Linked DNA regions of Homo sapiens: region 2 is linked to region 1. Evidence: fine-mapped expression QTL. Tissue or cell type: lung. Region 1 holds a variant in brackets; the other region holds the start of a gene. All regions are shown on one strand. Distances are from middle to middle.

The links. PIP is the estimated chance that this variant, and not a neighbour inherited with it, causes the effect.
Region 2: it holds the start of ATP8A2, and the variant in region 1 is fine-mapped to the expression of ATP8A2 in lung (GTEx, PIP above 0.99).

Annotation. Positions count from the first base shown.
Region 1 is chr13:26,009,414-26,017,556 of GRCh38, forward strand. It overlaps ATP8A2 (ATPase phospholipid transporting 8A2), which reads left to right. Exons shown (of 37, transcript NM_016529.6): 36 at 3,118-3,209. Among named protein-coding and RNA genes, the nearest start is that of SHISA2, 39 kb to the right of the region's middle. RefSeq lists enhancers at 2,447-2,947, 2,948-3,448. The variant C/A (reference allele first, on the strand shown) is at 3,770.
Region 2 is chr13:25,367,885-25,376,027 of GRCh38, forward strand. ATP8A2 (ATPase phospholipid transporting 8A2) reads left to right here and starts at 4,090. Exons shown (of 37, transcript NM_016529.6): 1 at 4,090-4,404. The coding sequence starts at 4,329.

The DNA of each region.
Region 1 (8,143 bases):
AGGGCATCTGCGCACGTGTGGTGTGGTGAACATCCCAGCCCACACATCCAGGTTCTGTTCACATCCCCATGCAAAAAGCACCCCTTGGCCACCCCCACAGACCTGGGGTGTGCACATTGGCTATATGGTCTACTTTTAGGGGGATGGAGCTCAGGATGGAGTCAAGTTAGCCTTGGATGGAGGCCTGGGTGGTCATTGAGCAGGGACTTCTAGGGTCCCAAATAACTGAGGTGGTGGATGGCAGGCCTGGGCCATGGGAGGGTGTACCTCCTTGGCTGTGGACCCCTCACAGTGTGTGGAGGAAGGGCTGCGGCACAGAGTGGGTCCCTCTGAAGCAAGAAGTCACATTTTTAAATAATATCTCATTATAGGCTGAGCACAGTGGCTCATGCCTGTAATGCCAGCACTTTCGGAGGCTGAAGTGGGCGGATCACCTGAGGTCAGGAGTTCAAGACCAGTCTGGCCAACATGGCAAAACCCCATCGCTACTAAAAATACAAAAATTAGCCAGGCCTGGTGGCAAGTGCCTGTAATCCCAGCTACTCAGGAGGCTGAGGCAGGAGAATCGCTTGAACCTAGTAGGCAGAGGCTGCAGTGAGCCGAGATTGCGCCACTGCACTCCAGCCTGGGCAACAAGCAAGACTCTGTCTCAAAAACAAAAAGAAAAAAATTAATTATAAAAAAAGAAGACAGAGAAAAGCATTCACCACTCTAGGCGGCATCTAGGCGGCGTCTGCCAGCACAGGAGCCCTGCCAGCAAAGCCCCATCTGACCTTTGTCAAGTTATTTGACACAGCTGAGTCTGTTTTCTCACCTGCCTGGTGAGAGGCCAACATGTATAATTTCAATGATCCCTCCCATTTCTGAGGATCTGTGACATTCTCATAAGCCCCATCATGAGGAGGAGCTTCTGGGATGGCCAGGGTGGTTCAGGAGGCATGTCCCTGTGGTCCAGGGGCATGGGGGCAGAGCCTAGTCCTGCATGGTCTCCAGCTTCTGAGAAAATAATGTGTCAGTTGCCCATTATGTCCCCATGTGGGGCCTGGCTGGTGAGGCTACCCTGGGGCCAGGCAGGGTGAGGGGCCCCCTCTGCACACAGTGCCCTTTATTTTGTGCAGGAGTCATGGCCAGTGCTGGGCACGTGTTGGACAGGGAGGACAGGCCCTTCTTTATACCTGCCACATTCTGAAACCAGGCAGCACAGGGAGCTGTGGACAGTCGGTGATGGCAGCTACACAGAGGGACAGGTGCCACGGGCTCACTCCTCCTGTGTTTGCACAACCATGCCTTCCAGGGCAATTGCTCAGCCAGACCCGGTGAGATTAATTTGGCCCATGGAAGAAAGAGGAGACGGGAGGGAGGACCAGTGTGAAAGGATGGAGAAAGTATTTTTCTTCCTCAGCCATGAGACGTTTTGCCAAGCTTAGCTAGCTGAGGCTCACCCTTAATTGGGAATGAATTAAACATTGTTATTTCAACCAAGGCACTCAGAAATGCCCTCTCCTGGAAATTCAAAATGAACTTCAGCTCAAAGAACTGTGAAGAAGAGCCAGGGCCCCACTCCTCTTTCGATGGCCCTGAGGGAGCTAGGTGGGTCTGCAGTCATGGGAGGGGCCTCCTCAGGCTCCAGGCTCACTGATCGATCGGGGGCAGGGTACATGGGATTCAAGCACCTGCAGCTTCTTCTACAACTCCGTATCCCCTCACGTTCCCACAAACGTAAGGGGGGTCTGTATTTGTCTGCCTGGGCTGCCGCAATAAAGTGCCATAGGCTGTGTGGCTTAAACAGCAGAAATTGAGTTTGTCACAGTCTGGAGGCTGGAAGTCCATACTCGAGCTACTTACAGATTGGTTTCTCATGCGAGCACTCTCCTTGGCTTACAGGTGGCTGTGTGCTCTGTGGTCTTCCCTCCGTGTATGCCTGTGTCCTCATCTCCTCTTCTTATTAGGACAGCAGCCATGCTGGATTAGGGCCCACCCTGATGACCTCATTTCACCTTAATTACCACTTTAAAGGCCCTGTTTCCAAATACAGTCCCATTCTGAGGTACTAGGGGTAAAGACTTCAACATGTGAATTTAGAGGGGACACCATTCAGCCCATAATCTATTATGCCTCTAGGTCACTGGCAAACTCCTGTAATGACAAGCGAAATGAGAGCCTGATAGTAAAAATCAAAGCACTTTGACCTGCCTGGGCAGTTTTCAAGCAGTCCCTTTGGGCTTATAGAAATAAACAGACTGGGCATGGTGGCTCACACCTGTAATCCTAGCACTTTGGGAGGCCGAGGCAGGAGGATCACTTGAAGCCAGGAGTTTGAGACCAGCTTGGGCAGCAAAGCAAGGCCCTGTCTCTGCAAAAAATGTTTAAAATTAGCCAGGTGTGGTGATGCACACCTGGGGTCCCAGCTACTCAGGAGGCTGAGGTGGGAGAGTTGCTTGAGCCCAGGAGTTCGAGGCTGCAGTGAGCTATGATTGTGCCACTGCACTCCAGTCTGGACGACAGTGAGACCCCATCTTTTTAAAAAAATAAAATAGTATAGAAATAGCCAAGCTCCAGAACAGTTCCACATGTCTTCACAGCAGTGGCAACCTTGAAGGGAATAGGTTCAGGAAAGGCAGGGACTGCTCCTTAGCCGTCTGTTTTAGAAGAAAACTCGCCTTGATGTTCATTGGGGTTCAAAATAATCAAGTTCTGCAGAACGAAGCTGGGCTGTGGCTGGGGTCCTGAGGCCTCCGCGGGGCTCTCACCCCGTGCAGGCAGGGGGCTGCAGGCAGGAGTGAGGCGCGGAGATGTTTACCCGGAAACAGGCCTCTCCTTGGAGAAGTGTCCTGAAAAGCCCACGGTCCCGCGGGTATGGACCGGGCACATGCACACTTCAGCGAGCAGGAAGCGCTGGCTAAGGGAGGGACTGGAAACGGCGTTTTCCACAACAGGGAGCCAGCATTGAGGCGCCCAGATGGCATCTGCTGGAAATCACGGGCCGCTGGTGAAGCACCACGCCTTACCCGACGTGGGGAGGTGATCCCCCACCTCATCCCACCCCCTTCTGTCTGTCTCCTTGTGCAACCCGAGTGTTCAGGTGACAAGAGACTGACGCGCTTGCTTTATCCGCAGGCTGAACGAGCGCGACCGCCTGATCAAGAGGCTGGGCCGGAAGACGCCCCCGACGCTGTTCCGGGGCAGCTCCCTGCAGCAGGGCGTCCCGCGTGAGTACCGCGGGCGGGGGCTGATGGAGGAGTGGGTGTCGGTGCGGGGCGGGGGTTGATGAGGAGTTGGGGGAGCGGGCGCTGATGGGGGGCCGGGTGAGTGCTGACGGGGGGTGGGGGCGGGGCGTGCGTTTGGAAGTGGAACTGCAAAATGTGTATTTGGCCCCAGGAACGTGCAGCTTGAGTGTAGGCAATTCCCTGGGACCACAAAATCCGTAAACTTAAAATCCTGGTGTGGTTATGATCCTTCCGTCAGCCTCCCAAGAGGAGTTTTTTAAGGTTGAAGCAGTATGACTTTTAAACTGTTGCCCCTAAAGATAGCAATATGAACTGTTTTGTGTAGTGTTGCCATATTGATTGAAACAATGACCATCATTGGGGAAAAACATCATGCTTCTCCCAGGAAGGCTGCCCCACGTCTAAGCCTGGCGTCCCCCTGCCACCCCCGCCCCCACCTCCAGATTCCAGAGGAGAGTGGGAGGCTGTGAAACATCCCCTCTCCACTGCCCCCGACTTTGGAGCTCAGGGGGAGCTCATGGGCTTGTTTTTAGCAATCCAGT[C/A]ATCAGATCCCAGCTGAGGCAGATCCAGGCCACCTTCCCCAGGGCCAAGGCCAACCCAGCCCTGCCTCTCTGTGTCCTGCGGCCTTCCCCAGCCCCCTCTCCACCCCCATCACGTGCACACGCCAGCTTTTCCTCCCATACTTACTCCCTGCCTCCCTTTCCCTTCCGGAGGAGTTTAGAGGGAAACGACTGGTAGAAAGAGATGAGTTGGGCCGGACGCGGTGGCTCACGCCTGTAATCCTAGAACTTTCGGAGGCTGAGGTGAGTGGATCACTTGAGGTCAGGGGTTGGAGACCAGCCTGACCGACATGGTGAAACCTCGTCTCTACTAAAAATACAAAATTAGCTGGGCGTGACGGCACATGCCTGTAATCCCAGCTACTTGGGAGGCTGAGGCAGGAGAATCACTTGAACCTAGGAAGCGGAGGTTGCAGCGAGCCGAGGTCATGCCATTGCACTCCAGCCTGGGCAACAAGAGCGAAACTTGGTCTCAAAAAAAAAAAAAAAGAAAGAAAGAAAGAGACAGATTTATGAACGTGAAGAATCATTGTTCACACAGTACAGGCAGTGAAGGATCTGTGTTCTGTTGAGCTCTGCCTGTCAACAGGTATTTGCAGACTTTCTCAATGGAGAGAGAAGGAGGGAGACAGAGTATCATTGCTTTTCAGTAATCTACCCCCTGTCCTCACTTTCCCATGTGGAATATCGTATGGGAAGAAGGGGACTGACATGCTTCTGTCCTTTAATGCTCCACTGCCCTGGGAGGTGGGTAATGCCACCCCAAGGACACAAAGCAGAGGCTCAGGTCAGAAAGTGGGTGGCCCAGCATTGCTCAGTGGCATGCCATGAGGTCTGGATTGCAGCCTCAGACTCTGGCCCAAAAGAGAGGTAAGTCAAGAAGTTTGATGGGACAGGAGTGCTAACTGTAGGGCAGCCCTCTGGAGATGGGCTGCCTGGGTTCCTGTCCCTGCTCCCCTGCTTTTTCGTGACCTTGGGCATGTTACTTAATGTCTGCTTCTGCATCTGTAAAGTTGGGTAATATGAGAACTTACTGGATGCCAGAGGTTCAGTGTAGGTCCTGCCACCCACAGCTGCACAGAAAGCCAATCACTGAAACAACAATTATAGCCAAGGAAGAAGGCTTTATCTGGTGCTATAGCCAAGGAGGTGGCAGATTAGTCTTAAATCCATATCCTTGACTGACTAAAATTAGGGGTTTATATAGCAGGGAAGAAATGTTAACAATGTGTAAGAAAACAGGAATCAGTAGGGGTAAGGAAGCAATCAAGATGAATGAGGGGCTTAGCATCTCGTTGTCTGGATGAGATCATTGGGTGAGTTTCAGATCTTTGCTACTTTTCGAGAGGCCTGTGGGTCCCTACCTAAGGAAGGAACTCAGATAAAACAAATACAAATGTCAAGCTTTAAGACCAGAAGGGTCATTTCTATGTTAAAAAAACAAAAAAACAAAAACAAAACTGTCTATGGGACTATTGGGTTGGTTTCAATTAGGAGGATTAAATGAGATCATAAAGATAAAGTGTCTATATAGGCAATATAGGGTCCAATAAATGTTGGGTATTATTATTCTGCCATTAGCTGAATAATTTTGGGAAACTTAATTTCTCTAAATTTTTATTTTCTCCTGTGGAGAAAAAAGAATTTTAATGATATACATCTTACACAGTCCTGTGAGTCTTCATGACAGCATGTGTAAAGCACCTTCTGTATGCCAGACACAGAGAAAACACATACAGGTTCCCAGAACTCTACAGGGTCTGTTCTGTTGAGCCGTGTTGCCTCTCTGATGAATGTTTCAAAATAACCATAGACAGAATATACACGATATATATGTTGTGATCAAAGACCGAATGAGAATTTTTATGGGAGAGTCATAAATGTCTTAAAGACAACTACTAAATGCTTTTCTTAAGTCAATATTTTGAAGGCCAAAAAAAAATCTACTGAATAAATATAAGAAATAAGAAGGCTTCTGAAATCACACCACATTTTTTAAACATTCAGTGACTAGTACCAGAACCTGATGGATAACTTAGGACGTTTCTGTCACTAACAGCCAGAGAAGATCGTCGGGTGGTCAGAGCTGGTCCTGGGGTGCAGGATGGGCATATAGCAGGTCTCAGCCTTTGATGTTCCGCCTGGGTCTGTCCAGGAAACTAGCAGGAAAAACTCTAATCTTGGTAGTATTTTAGTTCCTGTGAGCCACCAACATACAATATTTGTAATCAGCATTTCCTACACAGTCTGATTTCCTCTTTGTCCCCATGGTCTTCTCATTTCTATGGCTATTAGGAATCTTTCCAGACAGGAAACTGCTATTTTCATTAAGATGCTATCAGAGCACAGATTCAAAGGAATGCTACTTAAGGGGAGTTTTATTCCAAAATAATGAAAAAAAAAGACATAATTTTATGGATTTCACCAAATGTTCTACCCGGAGAAGACAAAACAACTAAGAAATCCGTCTTTCCTCCCACCTCCTTTCACCTACACGATTCTGTTCTCCATTCTGGCTGTGGCTGTTTAAGAAAGCAGATGCTTTAGGAAGCCAGCCAGGGAAAGTTCAGTTAGTTGGGTCCATGAGAGCTCCCTCCAGGCCCCCATCAGGACTTTTCTGGCTGTTAGGACTTCCTGAAACATGAGTGAAAGTAGGGAGTGCAAAGAGCTGGAGGCTTCCTCCGAGCTCCCCGTTTGGATGCAAATGACAGTTAAAGGTTCATTAGGCAGAGCTGGGGAGCAGGTCTGTATCTTCATCCGGTGGGACAGAGGCTGGGCAGGCAGGACTGGTTGAGGGGTGATGGTGTCTGGTTTTCCAGTAAAACTCCTCCCATGACAGCTCTAACTCCCGCCAGGCCTGGTTTCTAAGAGGAAAATGTTTAATCTGAAATTTTATCTGAACATGGGAGGACTCCCTCTCCCAAGATAAACCTATCAGGCCATTCTCCTTTCACTCTTGAATTGTAGAGTCCACTTTCATTCTCGGTTAAGGTTAAGAAAGTCTTAGCGTACAACACGCTGGAAATGTGGTGGTAGGTGCAGCCAATGGGAACTAGGGAGGATGGTGGGAGACATTTAGCACAGACCTCACGTTGCTCTACTTACCCTGGGAGGTTTACAACAGGAGGGGCAACTCTTCTCTGCCTGTCTCTTCAAAGGGAAACCTCGAAACCCTTCCCATCCCAGAGGGGCCAAATCATCCCGCTGCAATCCCATGGGAGGCCCTTGTGGCCATGGCACTAATGCACACAGAAGAAGTGACAGAGTTATGAGCTGAAGAAACCCCCGGAGTTGGGTTTCCAGTAGACACAGGCATGTTATGGAAAACAAGATAAATAAAAGAAAAGGCTTTTGCACCTTCCATTTGAACAGGGAGTAGACTATTCCAAAGGCTAAGATACCTTTCCCGAAAGGACACTCCCTAATTTATTTTTATGTCTCCATGAGTTCCCCCCAACCAGGAGAAAAAAGCAGGCCAAAAGAGGTATAATAGGTAGTTAATTATTCTTTTTGGATGGACTGTTGACACCGACCCTTTCTTTTCTGACGTGGATGCAGAGGCCTCCGTGTTGGTGCAGTGTGAACTAGCACTGACAGAGGGAGAGAATCCTGCAGCCTGGGTGTGACGGGCCATGAACATGTCCTGGAGCCCATAGAGAGGACTGGAGGTTGAGAGAACTTGGGCCTTGCCTGGTCCAGGCCATTTAATTTACAGAAAAGTACATCAAGACCCAGGGAGCTTAAAGATCCCAAAGTCACATGGACAAGTAGCAGCAAGCAAGGACTAGAACCACCCTTTGTTTCCTGGCCACCACCCTGACCCCATGCTGCAGCCACTTGGGGCCACCAGAATCTAAGATGAAAACAAGCGAGTGGAGAAAGACATCTTCAGGGTGGAGAGCTCAGTAGTCCTCAGCTTCCCACCGGAAGAGTTTATAAAAGAGTATGTCCCATTCTTTGGGGTGACTGTTCTTTACTCAGAACCACTTCTGTAGGACTGAGGAGCAGCCCCGGGAGTGGTGCAGCAGCTGTGGAGCCAGTGACGACCCTGCCATTGCAGCTGCTGTTCTGCCAGGCCCCCTCAGGATGACTTCAGATGTGGACTAGAAACGTTCCTTGTTAAAGAACTGGAGAATGGAAATTGTCCAAGTTGACCACAGTACATAGCCTTGTTACTGGAGCAGACGAAGCAGTGTTATTTGCTAGATTTTGCTTTGAAACATCCCAAGGAAAGACGTCTCCTCTTGGACTGCAGTAAAAATGCTTCATAAAGGGCAGCTTGTACAGGATTGGGGATGAGAGTGTGTGTGCCACACGGTGCCAGAGGGAGGCAGGAGGCTGGGGCAGCTCCTCCAA
Region 2 (8,143 bases), 640 kb before region 1:
CGCCACTGCACTCCAGCCTGGGTGACAGAGCGAGACTCCATCTCAAAAAAAAAAGAAGACGAAGAAGAAAGATTTCCATTAAATCATCTCCCTTCCCGGATCCTTTGCCCAATGCTGTCGGGGTGTCTCTTTTAGTTGTTAGTTTTTAGATAATAATCAAGAGAGAGGAAAGAGATCCTATGAAGATACTGGTCTGCGGACAGAGGGAAAGGAAAGGGATTAGGGGTGAGTACACAAATGGCTTTCAACAGGCCTATACTGCTTTGTTTCCTAAACAGGAGAACAGGTACAAGGATGATTGGTACATGCTTACGTATAATTTTTAACATGCTACTTATATGCCATTTTCTTTTTAAAGTGTTTATGTAGACAGATGCGGTGGCTCATGTCTGTAATCCCAGCACTTGGGGAAGGTGAGGCAGGAGGATGGTTTGAGTTCAGGAATTTGAGACCAGCCTGGGCAACATGGTGAAATCCTGTCTCTACAAAAAATACAAAAAGTAGCTGGGTGTGGTGGCACGTGCCTGTGGTCCCAGCTATTTGGGAGGCTAATGGAGGAGAATTGCTTGAGCCTAGGAGGTTGAGGCTTCAGTTAGCCATGTTCACACCAGTATACTCCATCCTGGGCAAAAGGGTGAGACTCTGTCTCAAATAAAAAAGTGATAAAATGTTTACACATATATACATATATGTATACAGATATAAAAGGTAAAGACGCACACATAAGCATTTTAAAAAGGAAATGGGGCTTTTTTAGTTTGAGGAAAAGAAGGGCTTAAGAGATGGCTTGAAGTCTTCGTTTGTATAAAAGAACTTCTTGAGAAGGATGCCAACTGACTGTTTTCTAGGACCATGAAGACTAAAAAGGAAGGATAGGCTTAAGTTAAAATAGTAGAAATTTAAGATGTTCAGAGGACAAACTGCTTCAAAACACTAGTTCTTGAACACTGGAGTGGGCTGCCAAGAGAAGCGATCTGGCCTCTCCTTCCTTGGGAATCACCGGGAAAGGGAGAGGCAGCCTCTGTGCCGTCACAGCACTGGAGGGTCGGATCCTCTCCTGGGAGATCAGTCTGTCTTGGCTCAACTTATTGCATAAGGAGAGGGGCACACAGAATAATGAGAGGATGACGACAGCTGCCTTTCAGGGAAAGAAAAAGAATTCTCCCTTTCCCTTCACTTCCTCCTCCAGGAGGAAAGGGCTGCTCTGGCTTAGTTAAGTTCAATGACACTCATCGACCCACAGTGCTAGGGACTTGGTGTGGCTCCTACTGGGGGCTGCAGGCTGCCTTTCTACCTGTCTTGTGAACGCGTAGGGTCGTGGCTCTAAGAATTGAGGCAAACTCTCTTTGTTGAGGAGTTCTTGCTTTCACAGACAGAGCACATTTCCCTGACTGTCCTGGTTGCGGTGCCTTTTGCGTTTGCTGTTTCTCCTCACAGGCTTCTTTATCTCCTTTGGTTCTAACCTAGGCTGCCTCTGGCAAGGGTGAAAGGATGTCTCCAAGCCAAGCCTGGGTCACAGGGTGATCCACATCGGCACTGGATTCTAAGCATAATAATAAATACTGTCCATTTGCTAGCTTTTGTCCTTTGTGCATATATTTCCCTTGAAGACCTCAGAGATGGGATTTAGGTCTGACTCTGGCCAATGCCAACCTACTGATCTCCCCAACATTCCAAGAGGCAGTCAGATCAGGGGAATTAACCAAGACATCAAAGAGACAACACAAGTTGCTGTGAAATATTCACCTACTGCTCCTTGCAGTCTATGCTGTGATCTTCAAGGTGCACCAACTGAGGTATATTTCACACACCTACAAAGCTGTCAGGGCAGTTTGGTTATTGGAAGATAAACATAGAAAGAGCAGCAACAACTCTGTTTCATGATGGGGCTGCACAAAGTCAGGGTGGGACATTTGGTCACTCTTCAGTGATCAAGGCAAATATTCTATATATAACATACTCTGCTTCTTAAAAATTAAAAATAACCTTTATCTACTCTTTCTATTCCCACCTAAGTCAGAGCAAAAAAACCCAAAATGTTTTCTATTTATCTTGAAGTTTGGGGATTGAAAAAAACCACATTTTCCTTTTAAGTTCCTTTCAATTCTGGTTAGGTCCTCAAGGTGTTATCATAGACAGAAGATTTACTGAAGCATAGTGACAAGTTTTTGACAAATCCAGTCCTAGGATTAGCCCCAGCTTTAAGATTTATCCTCAGCAGCAATGAAGATCCACTGAGAAAACCTCTCCCACTCTGAAGCTTAGCTCAACAATTTAGAAAATTTTATTTTGATTCATCTTCCTGATAAAGATTCATTTCTTATCAGAAAAATTTTTTGAGGGCCCAGAAGAGACAGGTAAAGAATCCTACCTGAAGCTACATTTAGTGTAGATTCTTGCCAGCCTGCAGTTTTCAGTGTAAGTTGCCTGTCCCTTTGGATGTTGTTTTTTGTTTTGTCTTGTTTTGTTTTTGGTGGAGTCTTACTCTGGCACCCAGGCTGGAGTGCAGTGACATGATTTCCGCTCACTGCAACCTCCACCTCCTGGGTTCAAGCGATTCTCCTGCCTCAGCCTCCCGAGTAGCTGGGACTACAGGCACCTGCCACCACACCCGGCGATTTTTTTTTTGTATTTTTAGTAGAGACGGGGTTTCACCGCGGTAGCCAGGATGGTCTCCATCTCCTGACCTCATGATCTGACCGCCTTTGCCTCCCAAAGTGCTGGGATTACAGGCGTGAGCCACCACGCGCGGCCTGGATGTTTGTTCTTAAGAAAATTAGAAGCAGAGGCCGGGGGTGGTGGCTCACGCTTGTAATCCCAGCACTTTGGGAGGCCGAGGCAGGTGGATCGCCTGAGGTCAGGAGTTCGAGACCAGCTTGGCCAACTTAGTGAAACCCCGTCTCTACTAAAAATACAAAAATTAGCTGGGCGTGGTGGTGGGCGCCTGTAATCCCAGCTACTCGGGAGGCTGAGACACAAGAATCACTTGAACCCGGGCGACGGAGGTTGCAGTGGGCCGAGATAGCGCCATTGCACTCCAGCCTGGGCAACAAGAGCAAAACTCTGTCAAAGAAAAAAAAAAAGTAAAAGAAAATAAAATCAGATGCAGAGGCCAGGCAGGAGGAGCTCAGGCCGCACTGCTGTCTTTGCTAGCACAGATTCTTTTTGCTGAACTCTGTACTACTCCTTGTCAGTCCCTAATGTTAATTTAGGTTAAAAGAAATGTAATGCTCGCATCAGTAAAAGCAAGGTCAGACTTTCACCTGAACAGTTTTATTTTTGTTTTGTTCCGTTTTTACTCCGAGGTCAGAATGTCATCAGGCACAATAAAGATAGCTTCTTATCTTCATGGGATTGTGCCCAGAAAGACCAAGCACAGTCTAAACATTACGCGATAAGAAAAAACAAAAAATAGATCAAGTGACCTTGGACAAGTCATCTTACCTCTCGATGGTTTTGTTTTATGAAAGAAGGTGTGTGTGTGTGTGTGTCGATGGGTGTGTGTGTGTGTGTGTCGATGGGTCTGTGTGTGTGTGTGTGTGTGTCGATGGGTGTGTGTGTGTGTGTGTGTGCGTGCGGGGGTTGAGAAGGTTGCTGTTAAGGTTCCCTAGGGCTACCTGCAGCTTTAATATGCGTAGTTAGAATGTCAGGCAGGTTGTGGAGAGTGGGGGGCTGGAGACCCCCGACTTCTCTGAGTGCCAAGCCACACATCAGACACCTTGGAAATAACCCTTCCACGAAGTCCCTACACAGATCCCACCAGGCTGGGCACGGAAGAACAGAAACTGCGAAAAGAAAGGGACTGGATGAGTCCTGGGGAATCACAGCGCCTCCACTTGCACAGGACAAGTGACAGGCAGGTAAATAGGTAGCAGACAGGCAGAGACTCCGAGTCCCCCAGGTGCACCCCTCTCCTGGAAGAGCCCCCGAAAGTACAGGCCCAATCTCCCACCCCACCAAGCCCTCCCCATCGCCTTCCCCGACACCTAAAAGCCCCGGTCCTGCGTAATATTGCGGATCCCTCCCAGCCTCCCGTCCGCTCCTCCTCCCGCGGGGCTCCGCTCAGGGCCGGTCCCCCGCCCCCACGCCGCAGCCCGGGCCAGCGGGGCCCGCCGCGGTGGCGTTCGCGGATGCTGCCGCATTGGCCGCTGCGGCACGGACGGCGCAGCCTCGGGCGCGGCCCGGCACAGGCGCCGGCGGTCCCCGCCAGCTAGCAGCCCGGCGAGGCGCTGGCCCACCCATGGTCCTCGGGCGGCGGCCCCTGCGCCCAGCCCTGCGCGTAGCCTCCGTCTCTCGCCCGGGGCCGCCGAGCCCCCGACACGGGCGAGATGCTGAACGGCGCAGGCCTGGACAAAGCTCTTAAGATGTCCCTGCCGCGGAGGTCGAGGATCCGCTCGTCCGTGGGTGAGCTGGGAGGGGCGCGGCGAGGGAGGGTGGGCCCGGGGCGGGGGCGGCGCGGGGCGCGCCTGCGGTTATGCGACACTGCCCCGCCCGCGCCCCGCTCCCCTCCCTGGGCTCCCTGGGCTCTCTGGGCTGCAGGATCCGCCGACGCGGCGCGCTGGCCGCACGGGGGCTGGGCGTCGCTGCACCTGCGGGGCCAAAAGGCTCCAGGCCGGGGCGAGGTGAGCGGCGGGCGTCAGAGACCCCCGGCTCGTCCCTGTACAGATGTGTGTGTGTGTGTGCGGCCTCCCTGTGCGCGTGCCCGTGCGCCCCTACGCGCGGATGCGGCTCAGGGATGCGACCTAGGCGGCAGTCACCGCGATGGTGGGCACGGTTTGGCGGCGCAGAGAAGATGCAGCCTTCCCTGCCGGCGGCCGGCACCGCTGTGCTGCAGAGCTCAAAAGCAGAGGGGGAAAAAGGCATCCGAAGGGTCCCTCGAGTGATTCTCACCACTTGGAGCCCCGGGTCCTCGCGCGCTCACAGCGGCGACGTACTGGCTCATAACCATCCGTGCATACAACCATCTGGAGACGAACACACACACGCACACGCGCGCGCACACACACACACAGGTACACACACACGTACACACGCACGCGTACACATACCCTGCCTGCAGGCGCCTGGGTGTTGGAACTCGAAACCTAAAGCCAAACACGCATGTACCATACCCGACCACTCACACTGTTAGAGGCCCGCGTTCTATGATTATAGAACACATTTAGAAACTATGATGTCGTGGAGCTGGATGTTATGTGGCTATGACACTTGATAGGGTTACCTAGACCATTAGTTAATGCAGACGTAAAGAGGAGCCCCAAAAATGATTTCTTACCGTTTCAGGACTGCGGCAAGTTTGCAGGTAGATCTTTGACATGAGGAAGGTAGAGGGTGTACAGTTTGGAGCTGGGGTCACTTGTCTTCGTGCTTTTTTATTTGTTTTGAGAAAATAGGCACATAAAAATAAGCGACTTTTGTATTTCTGTAGTTGAGTAACGTGAGAGGGAAGCAAGCTTATCAGGTAATTTAAGCCAATGTTTGTTAAACTTGGGTAAAGTCAGGACACTTTCACATTCATTTTGAGGAGAATCCCAGCCTGAAGGGGTCACGGGGTGCAGGGTCAAGACTAAATAGCAGGGAAGAGCTGTGGCAGAGAGACAGTGGGAGGGCGCAGTCATACAGGTGTGAGAATTTCCCAAGGTGGAGGCAGCCTGAGGAGACCTGGGGACACCCTCTGTACCTTTGCAGGTGGGGCCAAAGGCATTTGCTTATGATTTGGATGTGGGGCTTCAGTACAAGAAAAGAATCAAAGATGCCCCCAAGGGTTTTGGTCTGAGACACCGGAAGAATGCACCCCTTGCTGAGATGGGGAAACTGCGGAGGACCAGGGTTCTCTTTTGCGGTAAGGGAGGGTGTGAAGAATTTGGTCTGAAATGCCTACCATAGATCCAAGAGGAGATGATTAGTAGAGAGCTGGATTTATGAGTCTGGGGCTCCGGGGAGTGTGCAAGGCCAGACATAGAGATTCAAGAGTCGTCGGCAGGACCGGCTCCAAGAGTGTATGCCCTGCAGCTGCTCAGAGTCTGGCTCTTACAAGAGTCAGCACTTGCTTGGATGTTCTGCCCAGTGTTGCTGTCTTGAAAGTCTTAATTTTTGAACAAGGGGCCCACCTTTTCATTTTACACGGGCCCCTAAGAATTATGTGATCAGCTGTCAATGTGTACAGATGTGACTTAGAAAAGAGGGGTCCTTGGATAGAGTCCTGGGCACTCTAACATTTTGAGGTTAGGGAGATGAGGGTCAACAGAAGGGGCCTGAGAGGATGGCCAGGGAGGTCCCCGGAAACCCGGAGGGAGTGCTCTGAAACTCAGTGTGGAGATGTTCAGGAAGGGGTGGGGTGTACCTGTGCCCAGTGCTGCTGAGCTCAATAAAGATGAGGCTGGAGAACTGTCATGTAAGTGGAGGTCACTGGTGATCTTGAAAAGAGCTGTTAACATATCATTGTGGGGAAGAACGCCTAATAGAGCAGGTGTAAGAGTAACAGGACAGGAACTGGAAACAGCAAGTCCGGAAAACTCTTTTGAGTGAATATTGCAGAAAAGGCAGGGGGAGAAGCAGATCGAGTGGTAGCTGGAGGAAAATGTGAGTTCAAGAGAGGTCGCTTTGTTTTGAGACTGTTCTACAGTCTGACGGCATGAACATCAACGCAGGAAGCTTTTAGGGAGCAGGGGGGAAGGCAGTGATCTGAGAGTAACCGTGAGAAGCAGGGTCCTCCTGGCAGAGCAGTTAAGGCAAGAAGTTTCAGGAATAGTCAGAGGGGTCGGGTTGTGAGGGATCTTGCTGATGATAGGCTGAAAGTTCCAGGAGACAGAGTGGAGGCTCTGAGATGGGGCCTGTTTAGGGTATTTGCATAATGTATGGAGAAGAAAGAGGATCTGCATAGTGTGGGCTCCTGGGGACACTGATGGAAACAGGGGCAGAGGGCCTGACAATCGTGTACTCCCATAAAAATACTAAACAAAGATGTGTGATTTTTAGTGAAGTCTGCTACTTCTCATTATTAAAAAATAAACTAATGATGAAAGGATTGCAGATCACAGTCAGCTTCAAGAGTATATGCTGAGCTGTATACTATTTTTAAAAATAATTCTGGAATATTTTCTTGTCTGAGCCATCTTTGACTCTTATCTTGTTCTGCATATTCAATTGCACTTTGATCAGTTTTAGCTTTCCCCAAATATCTACTTGGTGCCAGTGTGTCTCATTTTACCAAATGATGAAAATCCAAAGATTTGTGACCATGGGGATCCTCTTGCCCGTATAGTGCTTACAGTCTGCTCAGGGTGGAGCCCCTTAGAATGGAAACAAAGTCAGTGACAAATATATATCAGTGCCTTCTATGTGCCCGGCATGGTTCTAGGTGCTAGAGACAGAGCAGGGAACACAGCAGTGTGTCTCACAGAGCTTATGGTCTAGGCAGTGACTACAGTGCACGTGGGAAGAGCTCTCAACTCTCTTCTCTCACCTTGACCCAGATGAGTAAGGAAATTAAGGGTGTACATGTGAATATGGGTGTTGGGGGTTGTGGGAGGGGAGGAGTGGGGACAGAAAGGAAGGAAGTTGTTTTCTATGGACGACAGCATCAGTGCTGTCTATGGCAGAAGCTCTTCCCTATCTTACCGCATTTCTGGACTTAGTGAAAGAACGGGCAGGCAGGAAGTGCACAGACCAAGTGCAGAACCCAGAGGACTACAAATATTCTTTTTTTTTTTTTATTTTGAGCCTGTCGTCAGGCTGGAGTGCAGTGGTGTGATCTCGGCTCACTGCAACCTCCGCCTCCCGGGTTCAAGCAATTCTGCTGCCTCAGCCTCCCAAGTAGCTGGGATTATAGGCTCCCACCACCACACTCAGCTAATTTTTGTATTTTTAGTAGATACGGGGTTTCACCATGTTGGCCAGGATTGTCTCGATCTCTTAACCTCGTGATCCACCCACCTCGACCTCCCTAAGTGCTGGGATTACAGGCGTGAGCCACCGTTTGGACCAGGACTACAAACCTTCTAGAAACTGCCCCTGGAGCCCTCCTCTAAATTCCACACCCAACTCACCCTGCCCTCTGCTGGTCATCAAAGGTATTTTTTAATGTGTGTTTTCTGTTTTTGCCAGAACAACCTGCCCCAAGTTTCAAGGAGGAGAATCAGGG